7 linked regions of the Homo sapiens genome follow. The protein of the gene in region 3 purifies or fractionates together with the protein of the main gene of each other region. This does not show direct contact. Each region holds a gene or a part of one and is shown on either strand. Other genes may lie near its edges. The genes, in order: RAB2B, RLIM, NAA30, NKIRAS1, MAP4K2, SNRNP27 and ATP1A3.

Region 1 (3,500 bases), about 36 Mb from region 3:
ACTCCAGCCAGGGCGACAGAGTGAGACTTTGTCTCAAAAAAAAAAAAATTATTTCATTCTTAAATAGCAACAGTTACTTACTAAAGACCTCTATGTGTCTGTTGGGCACTGCATAGCTTCTCAAACCTTGGAATCACGATTGCACACTGCTACTCTCATTTCCCATTTCATATTGATTTTTGTGTAGTGCTTGCTTTTTTATAACAGCAACTGCCAGAAACAGCTTCTCAGAGATATGAAGATATTGAACGAATTTTATCATGGTCTGATATTGACATTGCAACTGTCTTAAGCTTGTAATTCATGTAGTAAGTATCCTTGTGTTGAGTGTTACTGTGTTTTTCTCAAAAGTTTGAGGTATCCCATGGCACCCTTGTGAGTTTGTAGTAGTGCCCAGAGTGTACTATTTGAGAACTGTGGCCACAGGCTAATTGGTTTTTTGTTTGTTTGTTTGTTTTCATTTGTTTGTTATGAGATGGAGTTTCACTCTTGTCACCCAGGCTAGAGCACAATGGCATGATCTCGTCTTACTGCAACCTCCACCTCCTGGGTTCAAGCGATTCTCCTGCCTCAGTCTCCCGAGTAGCTGGGATTACAGGCATGTGCCACCAAGCCCAGTTAATTTTTTTGTATTTTTAGTATAGACGGGGTTTCTCCATGTTGATCAGGCTGGTCTTGAACTCCTGACCTCAGGCGATCCGCCTGCCTCGGCCTCCCAAAGTGCTGGGATTACAGGCGTGAGCCACCACACCCATCCTGCTAATTATTTTTAGTGTATCAGTCAATGTATTGAAAACGACTGTGCCAGATTCTGAGTTTGCAAGGTGGAAAAAAGTCGTCCCCCTGCTCTTGTGCAGCTTACAGTCTAGTGGGGGCATAGATGTTAAATATAAAATTATTTGTATCAAATTGTAAATTGTGATAAATGCAATGGAGGAAAAAGGGTGCTACGAAAGAATAACAGGGTACCTACTTTTGATTAGGAGTGATATTAAGCTGGGATCTGAAGGATGGGCAAGAGCCTGCTGGGCAAAGATTTTTTTAAAAGGGTATTACTTGGGGGGAACAAACTATACAAACACCTTGAACTTGGAAGAAGCTTGACACGTTTATTGAAAGAAACCTAGTGTGATTGGACTAAATCAAGAGGGAATAGTGCAAGATGAGGTTGGAAAAGTAGGTAGGGACCAGATTTTATAGCACCTTAGAGGCCTGAGTAAGGGTTTTGGATTTTATTCTAAATACATGGAAATTGAAGCTTGGGAGATGGGGGATTAAAAATAATAATAAATAAATACACCTGAAGCATTTTAAAGTTTTAAGTAGAGAAGTGGCTTGATCAGATTTTAAAAGATCACTCTGGAGGAGAACAAGGACTGAAGTAGTATCCCAGTTGCAATAGTCCACATGAGAAAGAATGGTAGCTTGGTCTAGGAAGTGACCCTGGAAAGAGAAAGAAAGGATAATTTTAAGGTACATATTGGAAGTACTTCACTTTGGAATGGATTAGATATTTGGAGTAGGGAGCAAAGGGTATCAATAATAACACTTTGGTTTTTGGCTTATGCCATTTACTGAGATACAGAAGCCTGCAGCAAACACAGGCTAGGGGAAAAGAAGTTCCATTTTGATGTGTTAAGTTTGAAGTCCGTTTTATGTATCAGTGTGGAAATGAAGAATTCACAAATGTACAAATCTGGTGCTTAGTCAAGCATCTGGGCTAGAGGTACAAATTTGGGAGGGTTGACATTTAGATCTTCCCTGGTCTTCACACAGCTGATGGTATAATAAATTAAAATATTGTAGATTTGTTGTTCTTTAATGGTCTTACACTTTTTTTCCAAGGAGTTGGAAAACTGGAAACCTCCCAAATGAAAATTTTCAAATTGAAAAATACGAATCACAAACAGCCCAACCTTGCCTTATTCTTCAGTTTGTTTTTTTGGTTTTGTTTTTTTTTTGCGACAAGGTCTCGTGCTGTTGCCCAGGCTGGAGTACAGTAACGTGCTCAGCTCACGGCAACCTGTTTCCAGGGCTCAAGAGATCCTCTCACCTCAGCCTCTCACGTAGCTGGGACTACAGGCATGTGTCACCACGCTCTGCTGATTTTTAAATTTTTGTAGAGACAGGGTCTCACTGTATTGTGCAGGCTGTTCTTAAACTCCTGGGCTCAAGTAATCCTCCTGCCTCAGCCTCCCACAGTGCTGGGATTATAGGCATGAGCCACCACGCCCAGCTCTGCAGCCTTTTATCCTGTTTTTCATAAGGTCTTTTGTTGCCATTTTTATTCCCTTTTTCAGTCCTTAGCTCTTATCTTTTTTTTCACCTAATTTTATCCATATCACTGTCTCTGAATTCCCTGGTGGCAAGCTGCTTTTATATGCACTAGTAACGAAACCAGTGAGACTTAAGACAACTGTGTTTTCCTTATTCCTGGCTCATTCTCTTCTTGTGGCTTGATTCCAGTAAAAAAGGAAGATGCTCATCACTGCTGGATGGGACATCTTATGACTTTTCTGCTTTCTAGTAACTAGAGTTTTCCTTTTTTTCTTCCCCGCCCAAGAGACAGTCTTGCTCTGTCGCTGAGGCTGGAGTGCAATGGCGCGATCTCAGTTTACTGCAACTTCCGCCTCCCATGTTCAAGCAATTCTCTTGCCTCAGCCTCCCGAGTAGCTGGGATTACAGGCACCTGCCACCATACTCAGCTAATTTTTGTATTTTTAGTAGAGACGGGATTTCACCATCTTGGCCAGGCTGGTCTTGAACTCCTGAACTCGTGATCCACCTGCCTCGGCATCCCAAAGAGCTGGGATTACAGGCATGAGCCACTGTGCCCAGCCAAGTTTTTTTTTTTCCTCATCTATACTTTGCTCTCCTTGATCTCATTGGAAAAACAAGCAATAGAGCATAAGCTTTGTGTAACTATGGGGGCTTGCCTAACCCTTGATAAGCCATTTTCTCTGTAATAGAGTGAGGTATTATCTTCAACTATGCAGCAGCTGTCCCAAAACTAAAGAATATTTTCCAAGATGCTACAAAAATCAGTAACTCTGTATAAGAGTATCATGTAGGATCTACATTCTTTATGAAATAACTGGCAGTTGAAACCACGACGGAATTCTTTTAGAAATAGACTTTCCTCTTTCACTTGGATCTTTTTTTTAAATTTTCTCCTTAATTAATCTCTTGCAGTGACCTAGAGTCCCGCAGGGATGTGAAGAGAGAAGAAGGAGAGGCCTTTGCTAGGGAGCATGGACTTATATTCATGGAAACTTCAGCCAAAACAGCCTGCAATGTTGAAGAGGTACTATTTGGAAAACAGTGGGGAAAGCTCTTTAGAGATTACACCATTATTTGTCCTTGTATTCAGAATTCTCTTCTCCTATAAGAAATTGGTAAAGAAAGGATGTCTTGGCCGAGCGCGGTGGCTCATGCCTGTAATCCTAGCGTTTTGGGAGGCCAAGGCAGGCAGATTGCGTGAGCTCAGGAGTTTGTGACCA
Region 2 (3,500 bases), on a different chromosome or scaffold from region 3:
ATTCATTCTTGACCTTTTAGAATTTCTACCATTTCCTACATAGAAACTAGAGACAAAACATTTTACCTCCATTCAAAATTTTCCTGACACTGATTTCAGAGATTTTTGAATCCTAAACAGCTCCTGCTTGATGAGCTTGGATTCCGTTCCATGAAAGAGGGAATTCTAAATTTTATTTAATTCAAAATTTTAATGAGACACACTCATAAAGCAACATGTGAACAAATCCAAATCACTACCTCTTCAATAATAATAATATGCTGCTGTCTCCTTTCCTGCTACCCTTCCATATATATGCCAGAGACAATCAAGGAAAATATTTTCCCCATGATACTCCTGCAACACACTTATTTCAAAGCCTCCATCCTTTCTGCCTTAACTTAGCATTTCCCCTGGGCTGGAATTGGGGGTCAAGAGATTTCAGCACTGGCAAGGCACTCCCTCCCTTATAAGGGAATTCAAAGAGTAAGCTATGGCTACAATACCTGCAGAGGTCCCCTGGACTAGACATAATTACATTTGCAAAGAAAATGGAAATCAAGGCAATGCTCTCAAATGCCTTGTAAACTAATTTTACTCTCACACACCCAATGAGCCTGGTCTTATTTTAAGCAGACCTTCACTATCTAAGCGGCATAAAAGAAAGAAATGGAATAAATCTAAAAACCACAAGTTCTGCCCCAGGTAGATATAATCTGCCACTATTGTTTACTAAGTGCAAACAAACATTTTAAAGTTTAGGCATGCCAAAAATACCAGAAAACCATACTCCAAATGATCAAATACAGCTCTATCTCCATTTTGGGTGTGAAAATATTAGTGAAGAATAACATTAACAAAACAGGTCTCCAGATTCTACTTTGCAGTGAGTAACATTGTGGTACATTTCTAGCTTAAGTAGCAAGAGGAAAAAGAGAATCCTTATACACCGCTGGGATCTTTCAACATCATCGTAAAAGAGAAGGTCATAAATCCATTTCTTTAGTTATCTCAGATAAGTCAGAAATTCTGACTTCAGCATATGATTAGCATCAGCTGTTTTTCTATGAAAAGATTACCCGTGAAACATACAGTAATTTAAACAATGAAATATAACTGTTTTGAAGTCACTTAGGTCTCTCTCTGGCTATAAGCAATACTCATCACCCTGTATTTACATAGCCCTTACACCTGTATTTCATTTAATCTTCACAATAATCCCATGAATTAGGAATCACCACCTCTACAGGTGACAAACAGAAGCACAGAGAAAGAAAGTGATTTACCAAAAACCATGTGACTAGTAAGTGGGAAAGGGCCAGTAATTAAATCCAGGTCTCTGCATTCCAAATCCAGTCAACTTTTCACTAAGACAACTGCCTCCCAACATATCCCAAGACTCTATACTTTAAAACACATTCCTTCCTTCAATCCCAATAGGTATGACTAAACTATTCAATCTATGAGCTTTTTATACCATGTTCACTCCCTGTATGAAAAATTCCAAAATGACAAAACACCTTTTGTAAGCAGCACAAACCTAGATGGACTTATTTTTAAATAAGTCAACTTTTAGTAATTTTTAAAAATACAGTTGCTCCTTAGATAAACAGCATATTTTATTAACCTTATTTCTTTTAGAGTACTGTGTGCCAATATATCCAAATCCATTCCTGGAAACAAGAAACCAAATGAGAAATTTTGCCCAATCGTTTCAAAGAGCTACTCATCTGGTCAATGAATGGGACTGTATCCAGTAAGTTTAATTCTGGGGAGGAAAGGCCAGCAAGAACACCAACCCTGAGATTTATTTAAAACAGATTTTATTCACTTTGAGAATTTTAAAGTATTGTTAATAATCTCAACTTCTTCTAGTCATTATTATATATTAATATAAATTATGCAAATGACTGTTTCTGATTACTGCTAAATGTAGTATCTCATTTAATTCTTCTAATCCATGCACACCAAACTTTTAAAAAATTTAATTGTTATAATGTTAAGGCAAAAAGTTATTTAAAACATATTGTTCAGTACTAACAGGTCAGGAGACCTGGTGCTAAGTATAAACACAGGCATGTTATATTTGATGGACACACTACATTATAGTACCCAATTAAGGAGACTTAAGGCATCCAAAAATACTGTTAATAAAACAGACCTTACAAAACTAAATTCTGAAACACCAAGTGAAATGCCTGTGTAAAAACCAATTTTAAAAAGTGAGTCATCTTGGCTGGGCATGGTGCTGGCCGAGTGTGGTGGCCGACATCTGTAATCCTAGCACTTTGGGAGGTCGAGGTCGGCGGATCGCTTGAGCCCGGGAGTTCAAAACCAGCCTGGGCAACATGGTGAAACCGTTTCTACCAAAGACACAAAAACTTAGCTGGGCATGGTAACGCGCATCTGTGGTCCTAGCTACTTGGGAGCTGATGTGGCTGAGGTGGGAGGATCACTTGAGTTTGGGGGCAGAGGTTGCAGTGAACTCAGATCACGTCACAGCAGTCTAGTCTGGGTGACAGAGACTCCATATCAAAATTTAAAAAGTCATATGGAAGAAATTACCTCGTTTTTTAAAAAAAGTGGGGTGGGTGGGAGGGAGGAATTAAGGTAACGTAACATCAACTAACTACTAAATCATGTTGAATATTTCACCTTGTGCATATGTGTTCATTCAAGCTCCAAATTCTATAATAAAGTTCTAAAGCAGGACATGCCAATTTTTAAAAAATTATGGGTATGAACACAAAAATGTGTCACACTGACAAGAGAAGGGCAATCCATTTTGTTTGCAACAGAGCTTCATCAAGAATCTCATAAAGGAGGCTGAGTACAGTGGCTCATGCCTGTAATCCCAACACTTCGGGAGGCCGACGCGGGCGGATCACCTGAGGTCAGGAGTTCAAGAGCAGTCTGGCCAACATGGTGAAACCCTGTCTCTACAAAAATACAAAAATTTGCCAGGCATGATGGCAGGTGCCTGTAATCCCAGCTACTCAGGAGGCTGAGGTGGGAGAATTGCTTGAACCTGGGAGGTGGAGGTTGCAGTGAGCAGAGATCGTGCCATTGCACTCCAGCCTGGGTGACAGAGCGAGACTCCGTCTCAAAACAAACAAACAAAAAACCACACACCAAAAACACACACACACAAAAAAAACAAAAAAGAACTTCATAAAGGAGTCCTTTAAGAACTAGTGACATGTGATCTGTGTCAATGAAGAAAATGTTAAATACCATCACCAAAATGAAAAATACTTTATTCAGTTTTTTAAAAGTTAAATCACAAAGAACTGCTGAATTTAAGGCCAGAAAACAAAAAGTACCATCATATCATTACGTATGTAGGCACCAAAAGTGTTGGGGATTCTTCATATATAGAATGTTTAATTAAAATGTTATGGTATTTGTAACAGAAAAATATTTGCTAACAACCAGGTATCTTTTTTTATTCTACACATGGGTAGCAGGGTGAAACTCAGCTCTGTGAAAGGAAAAAAGAGATACTGAAATCCAGTCTTGGT
Region 3 (3,500 bases):
GCTTTCCTTTAAAAAAAAAAAAAAAGCAACAAACTTTCCTGAAAAGGGGCCTTTACCAACTGTTAATGGAGGTAGGGTTTTTAAAAATACAGTAATTAGAGCCACAAAATATATTCCAAACCAAATACTAGAGCAGAAGTAGAGCATATTCAAATGAAAACAACAACAGATTCCTACAGTTTTCACAGAGAATGAATCTTTTTTCTTATGGGTACCTAGGTTTTCCAGTTAAATAAATTATCTATCACAGGTTTACTGACTCAATTGAAAGCAATTAACTGTAAAATTTGTTACATTGCACTGATTGGCCAAAACACAATGTAACTAATAAACATGGTGGCTGTTAAGAAAACCCACAGAACTCATTCCAAAAAAGATTTTCATTTCCCCCTTTTGTTTTTCTGGCAGAAGAAAAGCAAAGCTCCCCCAAGAATTTGCTCATACAAGTGAAAATAAAATAAAGCAGCTTAAAATGGATACAATGCACCTTGAAATTTATTTCCAAGACCAAGAACCTGAAGTGAAGCATTTTAAGAAATGAAAGCAATGTGAATCCAAATCAAGTGGGAAAAACAAATTCAGCTACTTTGTAAAAGCTGTTCTTCGCAGCGTAGCAGTAATTTTGATTAAATAAAATCATATCAACTTACACTAATTTTCTATTCTTTTCCAAAACTTCCCTTACTCTCAAAAGAAAAAGTGCATCTAAACCCCAGCAATTCCCGGCTCCATCAACTTTTCTTATCTCTTTTGAGCCATTTCTCAATTTTCCAAGTAGATTCAACTTGTTACTGTAAGGAAAAAGGGACTTCTAAAGTAAACCATTCTTTCATTCACCTGAAAAAAGTATCCAAATTATAAAAATCTGAAATAATTTATCAAATTTAGAATTTAAATAAAAACAAAAGTTTGCTTGCAAAGGCCTTAAAGAAAAGGAAAAGATAGCATGCATTCAAAAACTAGAGATGAAGACAAATATACTTATCTACACAGGCACTGGCAGACAAAATTTAATTGTTACCTTTACTCATTGTAAGACATACCCACCCTACATTTTTTTCATTCACTAATCACTGAGGTACCAATATTCAAGAATGGAAAATTTAATATTGAAAAAATAAAACCTAAAACTGAAGCGTCTCCCTCACCCACTTCAGAAAACTAGGGCAGGTTTTGTGTGAAATGTTAGTATACTTAAAGACTTTTACAATCCACATTGGCTTTTTTAAGGAACAAAAATTATGTTCCACTTACTGGTTCTGTGATAAAATGATCACTGTGTAAATAACATTGTCAGCAGACTTTGCAAATGAACACATAAATCTTGGCTATCAACTGGCACATCTTGTTGGTACCAAAAGAACTCCTGAAGTTTAAAACAATCTTTTAATTCAGAACAAATGTGCCATGCCAAAGTGCAACAAATATTGTGCGACACTCAATGAGACACTGACAGGTAAGAGCTGCATGGAAATTACTAAATCCACCTGCAAAGCAATTCTGTACAAATTGCATTGCATGCAAAGGTCGATTCTGTGCGGATGATAGTTGTTCCTTGATGTCAGTTTCTCAACGCAGCCACAGTTTAAGTCGCAGTGCATCAACTCCATTTAAATAGTATCTGAACAGCCTCTTATCTCGAACAAAACCAAGATTTTCATAAAGTTTCAAAGCGGACTTATTTGTTATTTCGGTTTCCAAAACAACCTTCAAAGAAATGAGAAAAAAACTAAGTTATAATTACACAATTTAAAAAATAATTTACCAACTAAACAATTTTTTAAAAAATCATACATTATTTTAAAAATTGATAGTGAAAACAATAAATAATATACAGAAAGAACTCAAAAACAGTCATCAAGATTGTAATATTATATTTGGGTCAAGGGCTTGGAGGACCACTGCAGATTTATCTTCTGTTCTACTGATTTGTGTAGTTTGAAATGTTTAGCAATGAGAGTATGTTTTATACTAAAACAAAGATTAATTATTTCCCTGTGGGGAAAGGTAAAATGACTACAGATGAAAATAAAATCAACAATCAAAAGTGCTGGTTTATTTCCTTAAAATAATAAGCTATATTATTATAAGCAGCTATTCAGATTGACTTCCAACTTCTGTATTTTCATTAATATGTCATTTATTCTGGCAATAACTACCATATTTGTCTGGAGTCTCGACCAGAGTCTGCAAACTATAGACTTTGGGCCAAATGTGCCTGCTGTTTTGTAAATAAAGTTTTAGTCAAACAGCCATGTTTATTTGTTTACATGATGTCTGTGGTGGCTTTCTCAATACAAGGGCAGAGCTGAGCAGTTGCCACAAAGACCTATGGTCCACAAAGCCTAAAATAATTACTAGTGGGCCTTTTACCAAGAAAGTTTGCTGAATCCAGACAAGAGGTATTCAAAATGTTACAGTGTATCATAATCACCTGAAGGGTCTGTTAAAATAGATTGCTGAGCCCCACCCTCAGAGTTTATGAGTACGTTTGCAGTAGGACACAAGAATCTGCATTTTTAATATTTTTAAATTGCTAGATGATGATGTTGCTGCGGTCAAGGGACCACATTTTGAGAACCACTGGTCTATATAGCAAAGCTTAACAGAGGAACACATAGTATTAACTTTCATTTAAGTCTTTTGAAATATTACTGAGCCAGTGGCCCTGACAATGAATAACTGGTATTTTTGAAAACTGCGATTTTATTTTTACCTCCCTCTAACACCCTCTACCCCATCTTCCCAACTTTTACACACGTAGCTCTATTTGCCTTTTCAATTGTTTCTCAACTTATTTCATTGAGAACTATCAACACAGTGAGCCACAGTTACTATTGGGTGTCATAACCCTCAAGTGTTTGGAGTGGGTGGGGGGGAAATGGCAAAGTATAATTAAACAAAGGCCCAAGTGAAGCATAAGTCTCTTCCTGTTCTTTCTCAAGCTATCAAAAAGTCTGACAAGAATGCAAACAACTGATGCAAATAATAAAGACAGTACCTCAACTTATATCCAAAATTGAACTCATAATCTGCTCTTCCTCCTCAATTCCATATCTCAGTAAACAGGATCACCCCCCACCACACCAATGCCTCAAACCTGAAACCCAGGAGTCATCTTTGAACCTCATTCCTCTCCAACCACCTATATGCATCCAAGCACTGATTATTGTCAATTCTCCCTCTTAAATCTCTAAGTGGTCCTCTTCTTTCTATGCTCGATATACCACAGTCCAAGCTGCCATCAACTCTCACTATAATTACAAGAGCCTCCTAACTCAAGAGGTCTCCCATTCTCTCTAGAGTTAGGGTGATGCTCTTGTTAATTCTCTACTTAAAACCGTTTACTGATTCCCTCTTGTCCTCAAGAGAAAGTCCACAATCTAAAAATAATATCAAGAGACATAAAAAGTCCATCAATATATTGGCCTCAGCTTTGCTTTAGGTCTCTCTCTTCTTGCTTTCCATGCTCAACACTGAATTTTCAGTTTCTGGAACCC
Region 4 (3,500 bases), on a different chromosome or scaffold from region 3:
AGACCGCTACAGAGAAACCAACTATACAAAGAAAAGAAAACAAAAACAAACAAACAAAAAACTACCTAATCTATCAAAAAAATAAGATAGTACATCCATGAAATAAGAACAGGATACTAACAAAAACTCAATAGAAGGGCTGGAAAATAAAGATAAGAATATCTACCAAAAAGTGGTACAAAAATATTGAGAGATGATAAACAGGAAAGGGGCAATAAGAAAATTCAAGGACTAGTCCAGAAGGTCCAGCATCCAAAAAGAGAGTTCCAGAAAACAAGGACAGAGAACACAGAGGAAAGAAAGCAATAACAAAATAATTCAAAACTGAAGAACATGCATTTCCATATAGAAGGGGCCCTCTAAGTGTCCAATACAGTAAATGAAAACAGACTGGCCAGGCTCGGGGGCTCACACCTGTAATACCAGCACTTTGGGAGGCCAAGGTGGGCGGATCACCTGAGGTCAGGAGTTCAAGACCAGCCTAGCCAACATGGTGAAACCCCATCTCTACTAAAAATACAAAAATTAGCTGGGCACGGTGGTGCGCACCTGTAATTGCAGCTACTTGGGAGGCTGAAGTGGGAGAATTGCCTGAACTCAGGATGCGGAGGCTGCAGTGAGCTGAGATCGTGCCACTGCACTCCAACCCGAGTAAAAAAAGAAAAAGAAAGAAAAGAAAAGATCAATTCTATGACGCATCACTGAAATTTCAGAACACTGGTGTCTTAGTCCATTTGTGCTTCTATAACAAAATACCACAGACTGGGTAATTTATAAATAGAAAATTTCTTTCTCACAGTTCTGGAGGCTGGGAAGTCCAAGATCAAGGTGCCAGTAGGTCTGGTGTGTTGTTATGGCACAGTCCCTACTGCAAGATGGAGCCTTGTTGCTGCATCCTTGGGAGGGGTCAAATGCTGTGTCCTCACATGGTGGGAGAGACAGAAGGGCAAGAGAGCACTCCCTTCAACCTCAAGCCCTTTTATAAGGATGCTAATCTTTCATGAGGGATTAGTCCTCATGAAGGTGAAGGGTGGAGCCCTCATGATTTAATCACCTCTTATAGGCCACAGTGCTTAATACTGTTACATTGGAGATTAAGTTTCAACATGAATTTTGGAGGAGACACTATCCTTCAAACCACAGCAACTAAGAACAAAGAAGAGAGCCTAAAAAAGTTTCCACAGACAAAGCATCAAGAATCATAATGGTTCCCAGATTCTCAAAAGTAGCACTAGAAGCAAGAAGACAATAGAAGCTGATAAAGTTAAAGAGACACACCTTCTATGAATCAGCAATTTCTAGATATGTATACCAGAATTTATCACATAATAGCCAGGATACATGTACAATAATGTTCCAGAGTAGCATTATTTCCAATAGCTCCAAACTGGAAAATAACCCAAATGTTCATGAAGACCTAACAGACAGAGGTAGTTTCATGCAATAGAATGTTACATCAATGAAAAGTAAACAACCACAGCTACGGCAAAATGGATGAATCTTTTATTTTTTTTTCTAAATAGAGATGGGGTCTCCTGATGTTGCCCAGGCTGATCTCAAACTCTGGGGCTCAAGTGATCTTCCCACCTCGGCCTCCCAAAGTGCTGGGATTCCAGTGGTGAGCCACCATGCCTGGCCTGATGTGTCTTACAAATATAATGTTGAGTAAAAGAAGCCAGACATGGATTAATTTAATTCATAGAAAATCCATAGGGCAAAAAATAAACTAGACCATTTAGTGACACACATATGTGGCAATTAAAAATAAAAAGAATGATTAACCAAAAGTCAAGGGAAGGAATGAGTTGCAACTGGACAGAGGAACACAGGGAGCCACTGGCCTGTCCTCAATGTTGTACTTTTTGATCCATGTGGAGATTATGTGAAGGTTTGTCTTATAATTATTAAACCATATATGCAATGCTTTCAAAATTCCGAAAGTATATTATTTTTGACCTAGAGTTCCATACCCATCAAAATTACAATTCAAATGTTAGTGTAAAATAAAGACAGTTTCAAACATGCAAAGCCTCAGAAAATGTATCACGTATATTTTCTCAGAAAACTATTTGAGGAGACCCTCCATAAAAACTAATATGTAATCATAGAAACAGGAAGAAACAGAACCTAACACAGATATGAAGTAAAGGAAATCACAAGCACAATTAGTAAATATCTCAATTCGGAAGCCCCAGGGTCACGACTACGTCCCAGGTAGAGGGCATGTTGAAGGCCATCATCACTGGATGTTCTGTTCTACTGTACAACCTTTTCAACCCCAGAAAAGTACTGGAAAATGTGCTCCAAAAAAAAAAAAAAAAGGTATAAGCCAAAAGAAGAAAAGAAGACAAGAGATCTAGGAAACAGGAAATCAAAACCAGGGAGAGGCCGGGTGCAGTGGCTCATGCCTATAATCCCAACATTTTGGGAGGCTGAGGCAGGCAGATTGCTTGAGGCCAGGAGTTCAAGACCAGCTGGAGCAACATGGTGAAACCCTGTCTCTACTAAAAACACAAAAATTAGCCAGGCATGATGGCGCATGACCGTAATCCCAGCTACTTGGGAGGCTGAGGCAGGAGAATCACTTGAACCTAGGAGGTGGAGGTTGCAGTGAGCCGAGATCGTGCCACTGCACTCCACCCTGGGTGACAGAGCGAGACTCCGTCTCAAAAAAAAAAAAAAAAAAAACCAAAGGGAGAAACAAAGGGGAAGTTCCATGATGATGGTGGCACAGTAGATAAGAGGACACAGAGCTCCTGAAAGGACACAGCCAAGAAAAAAAATAGATTATCTGATGGAGCTGACCTCATGCAGAACTGAGAAACATCTGGACTATGTGGAAAGAACTAGCAAAAGGTATAAACAAAACTAAAGAAATGACAAATACATGTTGGCTTCCATGAAAACAAAACAAAAAAAAGAATCACAGTATACTATACTGCTCTGCTGAGAATACCACTGACCCTTAAACAACACAGATTTGAACTTCACATGTCTTACATGTAGATTTTCTTTCTCCTCTGCCACCTGACACAGCAAGACCAATCCCTCCTCCTTCTCCTCAGTCTACTCCACATAAAAACAATGAGGATGAAGACCTTTACGATGAACCACTTCCAGTTAATAAATAGTAAATATATTTTTTCTTCCTTATGATTTTTTTTTTTTTTTTGAGATGGAGAATCACTTGAACCCAGGAGGTGGAGGCTGCAGTGAGGTGAGATGGCATCACTATACTCCAGTCTGGGAGACACAGATTTTATTTTATAGGCATTATCATCAAAGAGAGTGTCTTATATCCTTTGCAGTGGCTATTTTTCACTTACATTCTTCTTTTCAAATTTAAATAATGGTAACCTCTTATACATTTTAAAATAACCTTTATTTTTTAAAGCAGGTTTTTGTTTTGTTTTGTTTTGTTTTGATACAGTCTCGCTCTGTTGCCCAGGCTGGAGTGCAGTGGCGTGATCTTGGCTCACGATAAACTCTGCCTCCCGGGT
Region 5 (3,500 bases), on a different chromosome or scaffold from region 3:
TGCCAGTTTGGGCATGGGGTCAGAGGTCAGACATGGCCCCTGGCCCAAGCTGAGGGATTCCTTGGGCTCCCGCTTCCTCCCTGCCCCCACCTACCCCGAGTAACAGGGTGAATCCAGGTGACAGCAGCGTGGATCCGCAGGGGGCAGCCATTGAAGACCTTGGAGAAGCAGGCGCCCATCTGCAGAGGAGGCAAGAGGCTGGCGAGGGAGTGCAGGGGTGGTGGGTGGCAGGGCTGTGGGACTGCAGGGCTTGGGGCAAACACTTACATGCACCTTGGGAGTTGGGGGGAGCCCGTGGCAGGATGACCTCTGGGAGGGAGGAAAGGAGTCAGGGCTGATATGACAGCTGTAGCCGCCCGTCTCCCCACCCCACTGTAGCACCCTCTTACCTCAGGATCCTCCCGCTGCTTCATGGTGGCCCAGGCCGTGGGCAGCAGTGGGGAGCTGTTGGGGCCTGAAGGAGGTGGGGGCAGGGTTCCTGCAGGCACAGGCGTGCTGTAATTTCCTGCTGTAGCCCCCACCCTGGGGCTGCCTCCTGGCCTCCCAAGCCTGAGACTCACCTGGGGGACTGGACAGAGGCTCCTCTGCTGGAGGGTCAGTGGGGAGTGGCCCTAGGAACGGGGCCCGCTTGATGGTTCCCATGGTATCGTCTGGGGAGTCCAGCTCCTGGTAGGAGGGGCAGGGCCCAGCCCGGCCGTTACCAGGTTGCCCTGTAACCACATCCCACTCCAATCGTACCCTCTGCAGTGGCCTGGATCCCAGCTCCAGCCTCCCTCTGTGTGGCACCTGGAATTCTGAGGCTGACCGAATAGTCAGACTCCTGTGGGAGGGAGATGAGGCGTGAGGCATGAGGTGTGACTGGCACCAAGGCCACCTGCCCCTTGCCCCTCCCCCAGGCCCACATCCCTCACCTTTCCTCCAGGGCCTCCTGGACCGACTGCAGCAGGCTCCTGGGCAGTGGGGAAAAGGGGTCAGAGGTCAACCTTTCCTTTTTTTTTTTTTTTTTTTTGAGACGGAGTCTCGCTCTGTCACCCAGGCCGGAGTGCAGTGGCGCAATCGCGGCTCACTGCAAGCTCCGCCCCCCAAGTTCACGCCATTCTCCTGCCTCAGCCTCCCAAGTAGCTGGGACTACAGGCGCCCGCCACCGCACCCGGCTAATTTTTTGTATTTTTAGTACAGAGGGGGTTTCACCGTGTTAGCCAGGATGGTTTCGATCTCCTGCCCTTGTGATCCGCCCACCTCGGCCTCCCAAAGTGCTCAGATTACAGGCATGAGCCACACCCGGGCTTTTTTTTTTTTTTTTAAGACAGAGTTTCATTCTTGTCACCCAGGCTGGCGTGCAATGGCAAGATATCGGCTCACTGCAACCTCTGCCTCCCAGATTCTCCTACCTCAGCCACCCTAGTAGCTGGGATTACAGGCGTGGGCCACCATGCCCAGCTAACTTTTGTTTGTTTATTTATTTATCTGAGATGGAGTCTCGCTCTGTTGCCCAGGCTGGAGTGCAGTGGTGCAGTCTCAGCTCACCGCAACCTCCGCCTCCCGGGTTCAAGCGATTCTCCTGTCTTAGCCTCCTGAGTAGCTGGGATTACAGGCGCCTGCCACCACACCGGCTAATTTTTTCTATTTTTACTAGAGACGGGCTTTCACCATGTTGGCCAGGCTGGTCTCAAACTCCTGACCTTGGGATCCGCCCACCTCGGCCTCCCAAAGTGCTGGGATTACAGGCGTAAGCCACCACAGCCAGCCTAATTTTTGTATTTTAAGTAGAGATGGGGTTTCACCATGTTGGCAAAGCTGGTTTCGAACTCCTGACCTCAGGTGATCCACCCACCTTAGCCTCCCAAAGTGCTGGGATTACAGGCATGAGCCACCCGCCCAGCCTAATTTTTGTATTTTAAGTAGAGGTGGAGTTTCACCATGTTGGCAAAGCTGGTCTTGAACTCCTGACCTCAGGTGATCCACCCACCTCAGCCTCCTAAAGTGCTGGGATTACAGGCATGAGCCACCACGCCCGGTCAGAGGTCAGCCTTTCTGCCGCCCCTGCCACCCCCTGCAGCTTCCCCATACCTCACTTACCCACTCAACTCTTCCTTTCCCAGTAGTGTCCACTCTTCCTCCCACTGGGGGAAACCAAGGTAGAGACCGGGGAAGAAGCAGAGACAGATGCAACGTGAGAGGGCGCTCAAGAGATTCAGGAAAGGAAAGACAGACAGACAGACAGACGGGAAAGGTGAGATGGAAACACACAGAAGATGAGAGAGACAGACAGTGGGAGGCAGAGCTGAAGACTGTGAAAGAAAGGGCAACAGACAGCGAGGGAGGAAGAGACAGGCTGGGGGGTGAGGAGAGACCAGTGACAGAGCCGATGAGGGCAGAGACAGAAAGTCAGACCACTGGGGACACACAGGTGGGAAAACGAGGCTGAGCAGGGTAGGGTGAGGGCTCAGGCACATGACGGCCTCCTTTTGGGAAAGGCATGGTCTCTGTGCTACCTTCCAGACACCCACCTAAAAGAACTTGGCCCAGGAAGGAGCCCCTAACCCTCCAGGTCCCTGGGTAGGACAGGCTTGCTTGGACAGTCTAAGGCCCAAGGCCCGAGGCCACCCAGCTTCAAATCTCCCTTGATTTGAGCTGCTCGGCCTCCATCCGACCTCCCTGCCCCACCTCTGGGCACCACCTTCCCCTCAAGGCCTGCCCACTCACCGGCTCATTCAGTGGGTCAGTTTCCTTCCTGCGTGGGGCGCCAAATTTCACCTGGTGAACTGGGGGGCCCAGAGTACAAGAGTGAAGGAGCTGGAGTCTCAGGATGGACCTCTACTCACACCAAATCCATGTGCACACAGGCCCCCCAAAATCTGCACACACACAGCCCCTGCTGCAGACTCACACTGGATCTCCGAGGGGGTCCTCTCGGCTGGGCCGTGCTGCCCCCGGGAGTGAATGGTGTCTGGAAACATGTCATAGGTCTAAGGAAAAACAGAAACAGTGTGGACACACCTGGCACGCGCCTCATGCCGGGGCTGCTCTAGGAGCTTCACACGCACCAGTGCGTTTTGCTTTCATGACAGCCCTCTGGGACTACTGTAAAATAAAATGGAACCCCACTTCACAGATGAGAGAACCCACACAGAGCAGTGCCAAAGATCACACAGAAAGCAAGAAAATGGCACAGTCGTGGTCATGGTCAGCTTGGACTCAAGGGCAGGGACCTATCAAGGGGGTGGTACAGGAAACAAAAGTCAGCATGACAGAGACTCCTAATGGGAGGGCTCAGCTGAGGCCAGCTCCCTGAGCTGGAATGGTGCCAGTTAAAGGACCTCCACCAACATCACCCTCGGGCTCTTTCTAAGCAGACCAGCCCAAGACTCACTTTCCAGCCCCCCTCACCTACCTCCAGCTCACAGTCCTCAGGGGAGGGGGTCCCCAGATGAGGGTCACTGGCTTTGTCCAGCAGCTGTGTGAGGAGGGCCCGAGGGAGCTGCTGAGTCGTGAACGGG
Region 6 (3,500 bases), on a different chromosome or scaffold from region 3:
TGAGGTATATGATTTTGAACTCCCTATAATAGGAAGTAAGCATGACTTAGAAAGACTGGTCTTGGGCACAAAAAAGTAAATGATGATAACCTTTTTACAAAGTTCGATTCCTAAAGGTTTACTGATTTCTGGAAACTATTTGCAGAATTGCATATTATTAGCCCTATCCTCATTTATTTACATGCTGGCATAGAAAATTATCCATTAATAAACAAAACCAAACTTTGAAACCATCTAGAAAAATGTTATTGAAGTAATTGCAGTTTTAGCCATTATTTTCAATGGCAAAAACTGTAATTACTTTTCCACCAATCTAATAAGATGAAAGGGAAAAGCCAAGCACATTGCTGTGAGGCTACAGTCCCAGCTACTTGGGAGGCTGGGGCAAGAGGATTTCTTGAGCCAAGGAGTTTGAGTACAGCCTGGACAACATAGGAAGACTCTGTCTCTTCAAAAATAAAAAAAAAAAAATGGACTGAGGCAGGAGGATTTCTTGAGGCCATGAGTTCAAGACCAATCTAGGCAGCACAGCAAGACCCTATCTCTGCAAAAAATAAAAACATTATCCTGGCGTGGCGGCATGTGCCTACTCTCAGCTACTCCAGAGGCTAAGGCAGGGAAATTGCTTCAGCCCAGGAGGTCAGGCTGCAGTGAGCCATGATCATACCACTGTACTCCAGTATGGGTGGCAAAACAAGACCCTGTCTCTAAAAAACTAAAAAATGAGGCCGGGCGCAATGTCTCACGCCTGTAATCCTAGCACTTTGGGAGGCCAAGGCAGGTGGATCCCTTCAGGCCAAGAGTTCGAGACCAGCCTGGCCAATATGGCGAAACCCCATCTCTACTAAAAATACGAAAATTAGCCAGGCGTGGTGGCAGGCGCCTGTAATCCCAGCAACTTGGGAGGCCAAGGCAGGAGAATCGGTTGAACCCAGGAGGCGGAGGTAGCAGTGAGCCGAGATTGCGCCGCTGCACTCCAGCCTGGACAACAGAGCGAGACTCTGTCTCGAAAAAATAAAATTAAAATAAAAAATAATACAAATAAAAAAATGAAAATACAATCAAATAGAAAGGAAAATGGGTGACTATACTGGCATATGAAGAGGTCCCACAATAGATCAATGATGAAACATCACAAGACACACATTACTTAAAAACACAAATGAGCTGACGTTATAACTGATAGCCATGAAGCCAACTGCATATAAACTAAATTGACATCCTTGTAGATGTCATTTTAAAAAACTGACATCAATTAGTGTGATGGTACTCCATAATTTTTTTAAGATCTATGACTTTTCACCTAAGTTTTCCTTTATAAGCAAACATCTTCTTCACTGACTACATTTAAGTGATGGGTGGCACCACCCTTAGATCTGACTTTCAGGAACTTTAAACCTAACATCCAGCAACAGGAAAACCAAAAAACAAAGAAAATAATTCCATTTTCTTTGGGGAAAAAGTTCCCTCCCCATTCTTCTAAAGACAATAAAACTATAGTTGCTTTACTTTTGACATATTTTAATTCACCCAACATATATCTTAATAAACTTACATTTCACCCAACATATATCTTAATAAACTTTCATTTATAAAATAGTCTTTGGAAAATAAATAAGAATTTAGGGCATTCAAGGGAAAAAAGCTGATAAATAAACTTCATTAAATTCCAAAACAGAGCTCACATAACCATTGCAAGAACAAGAGCTTGTTCTTAATTTCTCACCTCAAAACAGTCATGCCTCAGTACTCCTAAGTTACACACTGTCATTTTAAAACATGTGAGCCCTACACAGTCACATTAGTTAGAAAGAAACTTACAGCCACTGAGATTACCCCATTCCATTAGCAACTCAATGGAATACAAGACTTGGGAAAGTGGATTATTTTTGACAACTTTTTCTCAAACATCTCTATTTCCATTTGCAAAACTAAATGGAAAGACTTAAAATTCTAGAAAAGAGATTTTAAAAAATATGTTTTTCTTTCCACACACCCTCCCTCTCTCCATCCCCTCTCCTCTCTTCATTTCCTCTCTCTATACCCATCTCTCTCTTCCCCCATCTCTCGCTCTATGCTCTCCCTCCTCTATATAATCCCTCCCTCTTTTTCCTCTTCCCTCATCTCTCTGCTATTATGAAGGCTAGACAGCATTCCCTCCCCTATCCACCCCACTTCTAAGCTATGAGACAAGTATGCAGCTGCCCAATGTCATCTCTATCTGGCAGCTGGATTTTGTTCTTCCATTTCCCAGCAGTTCCCCTTCCAGAAACTCTGTTCTGGGTTAACTGTATCACTCAGGGTCCCAGCCTGACACCTGAGAGGCATTACTAACTACTCACTCCCACTTCCCCCAGCTCCTGAATCATTCTCAACTCAGTTCAGGCCTTTATCATCTTTCACTTGCACAAATCAGCAGTTCTCCCTGCCTTCAATCTAACCCACCTCCCATCTGTCCTCCATGCTGCCCCCAGAGTCATTATTCCAAAACACACATATAACCATGCCACTCCCTTATTTAAAAATCACTACTTCCTCTCCTCAACACCAAAAGAATAAACTCTGAATTCCTTAGCATGACTAAGGGCATCAAAAGCCCTCTGTGATTTGCCTCCTACCTCTATTTCTAGCCTAAGTCACTAGCCCATCAGCACCCCTTTATCCCTGGTCGAATCTGAAATTCCCACAATACACTATGCTCCTTTACACCTACATGGCATTTTCATGAGCTCTTCCCTCTACCTGAAATAATCTTCTTCCTCTTCTTTGTCTGATCACTTCTACTTGTCCTTTAAAATCTAATTCAAACATCGTCCCTGGCAACCACTCCCTGAATTCCAATGGCAGTTCACTGTTTCCTCCTTTGTATTCTCAAAGCCCTTCAAACAGATAGTTATTGTCTTATAACCAAATAAATTTGTATAAATGGAAAAGAACATGGAAAGATAGGACAGTCATAACATATTAATTCAAATGAGAATGTTGCACGTTTTACTTACTTTTGTGGAGTCAAAGGAGGCAAATCCCATTAACTTCATCATTTCTATTTCTTCCTCTGTTTTGCCCTCTAAGTCTTCCTCTGCAAAAAAGAATAATTTTGTGACCTCTCTATCATTTCAAATATATACATAAATAAAAAGAGAGGTGGTAACAGATTAATAGTCATTCCACCTCACTAGCAGAGAACACACAAAACAATTAGCTGAAGATGAGTCTAATGAAAAAATTCCTCTTACATTTGGACAGAATGTAACTTATGGTACAAAAAAAAAGTCCTCTCCTTGAAGCCTTTAGACAGGATTACCTTTTAAAAAAAAACCTGGGTTTCATATTAAGGACTACCTTTAATATCAGGCATGACACTATATAGTTCTGAAGACACTTCCAAAATAGAATATTCTCATGTTTTTAACTATCGTTCTATATCAGGAGCACCATAGATAACCAGCAACTTGCTAGGGTGCAATTAAAACAAAATCTCAGGCTGGGCACGGTGGTTC
Region 7 (3,500 bases), on a different chromosome or scaffold from region 3:
GTCCGTCCGCGGGTTCCTGGGCTGTCTCTTCATGATGTCGCTTTCGGCAGCCTCGTACGCCAGTGAGATGGCAGGGACCTAGGCGGAGGAGGCCGGGTGAGCCGGAGAGGGGAGGACTCCACCCTCCTGGGCCCCAAGGGTGGCTGCCAGGGCTCACCATGTCAGTGCCCAGATCGATGCAGAGGATGGTGATGGTGCCCAGGGGCAGCGGGATGTTGGCCATGATGAACAGCAGGAAGGGCGTGATCTCCGGGATATTGCTGGTCAGGGTGTAGGCAATGGACTTCTTTAGGTTGTCGAAGATCAGGCGGCCTGTGGCACAGGCAGGCTCAGAGCAGGCGCCCATGCCAGGGAGCCCCACTCCCTCTGCCCCTCCTCTGCCCTCATCCAACGTCCTTTTTTTTTTTTTTTTTTTTTTTGAGACAGAGTCTCGCTGTGTTGCCCAGGCTGGAGTGCAGTGGTGCGATCTCGGCTCACTGCAGGCTCCGCCTCCCGGGTTCACGCCATTCTCCTGCCTCAGCCTCCCGAGTAGCTGGCACTACAGGCACCTGCCACCACGCCCGGCTAATTTTTTTGTATTTTTATTAGAGACGGGGTTTCACTGTGTTAGCCTGCATGGTCTCAATCTCCTGACCTCGTGATCTGCCCTCCTCGGCCTCCTGAAGTGCTGGGATTACAGGCGTGAGCCACCGCGCCCGGCCTGTCCAGCGTCCTTTTCTACCCCCCAGCCCACCCACCATTATTTTCTTTTTGGGACAGGGTCTCACTCTGTTGCCCAGGCTGCAGTGCAGTGGCATGATCACGGCTCACTGCAACCTCGACTCCCAGGCTCAAGTGATCCTCCTGCCTCAGCCTCCCATGTAGCTGAGACTACAGTCACGCGCCACCACGTCCAGCTAATTTTTGTATTTTTAGTAGAGACAGAGTCTCACCACTTTTCCTAGGCTTGTCTAATTTCTGGGCTGTGATTCCATCTCAGCCTCCCGAAGTGCTGGGATTACAGGCATAAGTCTCCACACCTGGCCCCTCACCCACCTACCTTTCCACATAAACATCCAACCACATCGCCTTTGTGGAAACATTCTTGAAATAACCACTTTGGAAGATGGTTTCGGAGTTGCTATCAAACATCCCCCACCCCACCGACCGAGTAATCCGACTCCTAGGTTTTATACCCAAAAGAGAGGAGGACTGTTTATGCCCAGCGAAAAGCAAGTACGAGAATGTTCACCATAGCACCACTCATCAGAGCCAAAAGCCAGAGTCAACCCCATGTCCATCAACAGGTGAGGGATGAATAAACCACGGTACATCCATGCAGTCAAATACTACACAGCAAGAAGGGGCGAGCTACGGACACAACTCCACAGCTGGACCTTGGATCCCGTGCTGAGTGACACGAGCCAGACACAAAAGCATTCTTAGCATCCAACTCCAACTGGAGCAGGCTCAGCACCCGTCTCTGGGCTAAAAGTCAGGATAATGGTTATGTCTAGGAGGAGGGATATAGACTGGAAGAGAGCAGACAAAACCTAAATGGGGGGCTGGAATGGTTTTCTATCTTGACTGGGGTCTGGTGGTTGCATGGCTGTGTACATGTGTAAAAATTTATACACCCTGTCTGGTTGAATATTTTAATGAGATATAATATGCCCAACTCACTGTATGCATGCCATATCTCAATAAATATTCAACCAGTACAGGTTGTCTAAAGTAAACAAAATAAAGATTAATCCAGGCCAGGCGCTGGGGCTCACACCTGTAATCCCAACACTTTGGGAGACCGAAGCAGGAGGATTGCCTGAGATCAAGAGTTCAAGACCAGCCTGGCCAACATGATGAAACCCCATCTCTACTAAAAATACAAAAATTAGCTGGGCGTGGTGGTGGGCACCTGTAACCCCAGCTACTTGGGAGGCTGAGGCAGGAGAATCATTTGAACCTCAGAGGCAGACGTTGCAGTGAGCCGCAATTGTGCCATTGCACTCCAGCCTGGGCAACAGAGCAAGACTCCATCTCAAAAAAATAAAATAAAATAAAATAAACATTAGTCAGGCACGGTGGCTCGAGCCTGTGGTCGCAGCTACTTGGGAGGCTGAGGTGGGAGGATCACTTGAGGAGGTCGAGGTTGCAGTGACTGATGATTGCAGCACTGCGCTCCAGCCTGGGCAACAGAGTGAGACCTTGTCTCTAAATAAATAAATAAGTAAAAAGATTAGCCCATGAACAATGAGGTCAATCATTAAGAAAGAACAGGCGGGCACGGTGGCAAACACCTGTAATCCCAGCACTTTGGGAGGCTGAGGCGGGTGGATCACGAGGTCAGGAGATCGAGACTATCCTGGCCAACATGGTGAAACCCCATCTCTACTAAAACACAAAAAATTAGCTGGGAGTGGTGGTGTGTGCCTGTAGTTCCAGCTATGTGGGAAGCTGAGGCAGAAGAATCGCTTGAAGCTGGGAGGTGGAGGTTGCAGTGAGCCAACATCACGCCACTGCACTCCAGCCTGGCAACAGAGCAAGACTCCATCAAAAAAAGGGGAGGGGAGGGGAGGGGGAAGGAAGGAAGGAAGGGGAAGGAAGGAAGGAAGGAAGGAAGGAAGGAAGGAAGGAAGGAAGGAAGGAAGGAAAGAAGGAAGGAAGGCAGGCAGGCAGGGACGGAGGGAGGGAGGAAGGGAGGGAGGGAGGGAAGGGAAGGTGAAGCAGGCTGCCTGTGGTGTGGCTTCTTTGATTGCTTTGATGTCTCTTGCATAGCAATAAGGGCCTGGGCCGCTCCCACCTGATATTCTCGTTCCCTGCATTGTGCTCTTCTCCACAAACTAGGGGTTTCTCATCCTAAACTATTTATGGATGAAATGGTGACAAATGTGCATCAGCATAATCCAGTGTGTGTTCCAGGTGGTGGGGAAGAAACAAGGTGTGCCGTGCGCTGACTGCCGCTGCAGGTGGGATGGAGGCGCAGGGGCCCACTGTGCCTTTGCTTTACTTTTGGGTATATCTGGAATGCCCCCGTTGGAAGTTATTTTGTTTGTTTGTTTGAGACAGGGTCTCGGATCTCGCTCTATCCCAGGCTGGAGTGCAGTGGCACCATCATGGTTCATGGCAGCCTCGACCACCCAGGCTCAAGTGATCCTCCTGCCTCAGCCCCCCAAGTCTCTGAGACTACAGGTGTGCAACACCACGCCCTGCTAATTTTTAAAATTTTTTGATCTTTGAGGTCTTAATTTGTTGTACAGGCAGGTCTTGAACTCCTGGGCTCAAGCGATCCTCCCGCCTTGGTCTCCCAAAGTGCTGGGATTACAGGCGTGAGCCCCCGTGCCTGGCCCCTGACGGAAGTTAGGTATTTCTTCCCTCACTTCAGAGAGGCCTTCCCTGTCCACCCCATCTGGGCAGGACCCTCACTATTATCTATCACAGCGGCCTGCTTTCTTCGGGGCATATATCACAATTTGTAATTACATATCTGTTAACTTGTTTAAGGCTGTCTCTCCAGCCCTGTG

Evidence for each region.
Region 1: the proteins of NAA30 (region 3) and RAB2B purify together in Homo sapiens (co-immunoprecipitation; one large-scale study listed by IntAct). This does not show direct contact.
Region 2: the proteins of NAA30 (region 3) and RLIM purify together in Homo sapiens (co-immunoprecipitation; 2 studies listed by BioGRID and IntAct, with this or other methods). This does not show direct contact.
Region 4: the proteins of NAA30 (region 3) and NKIRAS1 purify together in Homo sapiens (affinity purification with mass spectrometry; one large-scale study listed by BioGRID and IntAct). This does not show direct contact.
Region 5: the proteins of NAA30 (region 3) and MAP4K2 purify together in Homo sapiens (co-immunoprecipitation; 2 studies listed by BioGRID and IntAct, with this or other methods). This does not show direct contact.
Region 6: the proteins of NAA30 (region 3) and SNRNP27 purify together in Homo sapiens (co-immunoprecipitation; one large-scale study listed by IntAct). This does not show direct contact.
Region 7: the proteins of NAA30 (region 3) and ATP1A3 purify together in Homo sapiens (affinity purification with mass spectrometry; one large-scale study listed by BioGRID and IntAct). This does not show direct contact.

Annotation. Positions count from the first base shown.
Region 1 is NC_000014.9:21,463,460-21,466,959, reverse strand, and holds part of RAB2B (ras-related protein Rab-2B), read left to right. Parts: intron 1-1,089; exon of another isoform or gene 1,090-1,443; intron 1,444-3,192; coding exon 3,193-3,304; intron 3,305-3,500. UniProt on the Homo sapiens protein: The small GTPases Rab are key regulators of intracellular membrane trafficking, from the formation of transport vesicles to their fusion with membranes. Rabs cycle between active GTP-bound and inactive GDP-bound states.
Region 2 is NC_000023.11:74,604,625-74,608,124, forward strand, and holds part of RLIM (E3 ubiquitin-protein ligase RLIM), read right to left. Parts: intron 1-3,500. UniProt on the Homo sapiens protein: E3 ubiquitin-protein ligase.
Region 3 is NC_000014.9:57,407,586-57,411,085, reverse strand, and holds part of NAA30 (N-alpha-acetyltransferase 30), read right to left. Parts: intron 1,708-3,500; coding exon 1,570-1,707; 3' UTR 1-1,569. UniProt on the Homo sapiens protein: Catalytic subunit of the N-terminal acetyltransferase C (NatC) complex. Catalyzes acetylation of the N-terminal methionine residues of peptides beginning with Met-Leu-Ala and Met-Leu-Gly.
Region 4 is NC_000003.12:23,903,491-23,906,990, forward strand, and holds part of NKIRAS1 (NF-kappa-B inhibitor-interacting Ras-like protein 1), read right to left. Parts: intron 1-3,500. UniProt on the Homo sapiens protein: Atypical Ras-like protein that acts as a potent regulator of NF-kappa-B activity by preventing the degradation of NF-kappa-B inhibitor beta (NFKBIB) by most signals, explaining why NFKBIB is more resistant to degradation.
Region 5 is NC_000011.10:64,796,715-64,800,214, forward strand, and holds part of MAP4K2 (mitogen-activated protein kinase kinase kinase kinase 2), read right to left. Parts: coding exon 3,395-3,500; intron 2,970-3,394; coding exon 2,891-2,969; intron 2,766-2,890; coding exon 2,707-2,765; intron 2,124-2,706; coding exon 2,080-2,123; intron 951-2,079; coding exon 912-950; intron 821-911; coding exon 787-820; intron 667-786; coding exon 561-666; intron 479-560; coding exon 390-478; intron 310-389; coding exon 268-309; intron 180-267; coding exon 95-179; intron 1-94. UniProt on the Homo sapiens protein: Serine/threonine-protein kinase which acts as an essential component of the MAP kinase signal transduction pathway.
Region 6 is NC_000002.12:69,896,956-69,900,455, reverse strand, and holds part of SNRNP27 (U4/U6.U5 small nuclear ribonucleoprotein 27 kDa protein), read right to left. Parts: intron 3,080-3,500; coding exon 3,000-3,079; intron 1-2,999. UniProt on the Homo sapiens protein: May play a role in mRNA splicing.
Region 7 is NC_000019.10:41,970,231-41,973,730, forward strand, and holds part of ATP1A3 (sodium/potassium-transporting ATPase subunit alpha-3), read right to left. Parts: intron 313-3,500; coding exon 158-312; intron 79-157; coding exon 1-78. UniProt on the Homo sapiens protein: This is the catalytic component of the active enzyme, which catalyzes the hydrolysis of ATP coupled with the exchange of sodium and potassium ions across the plasma membrane.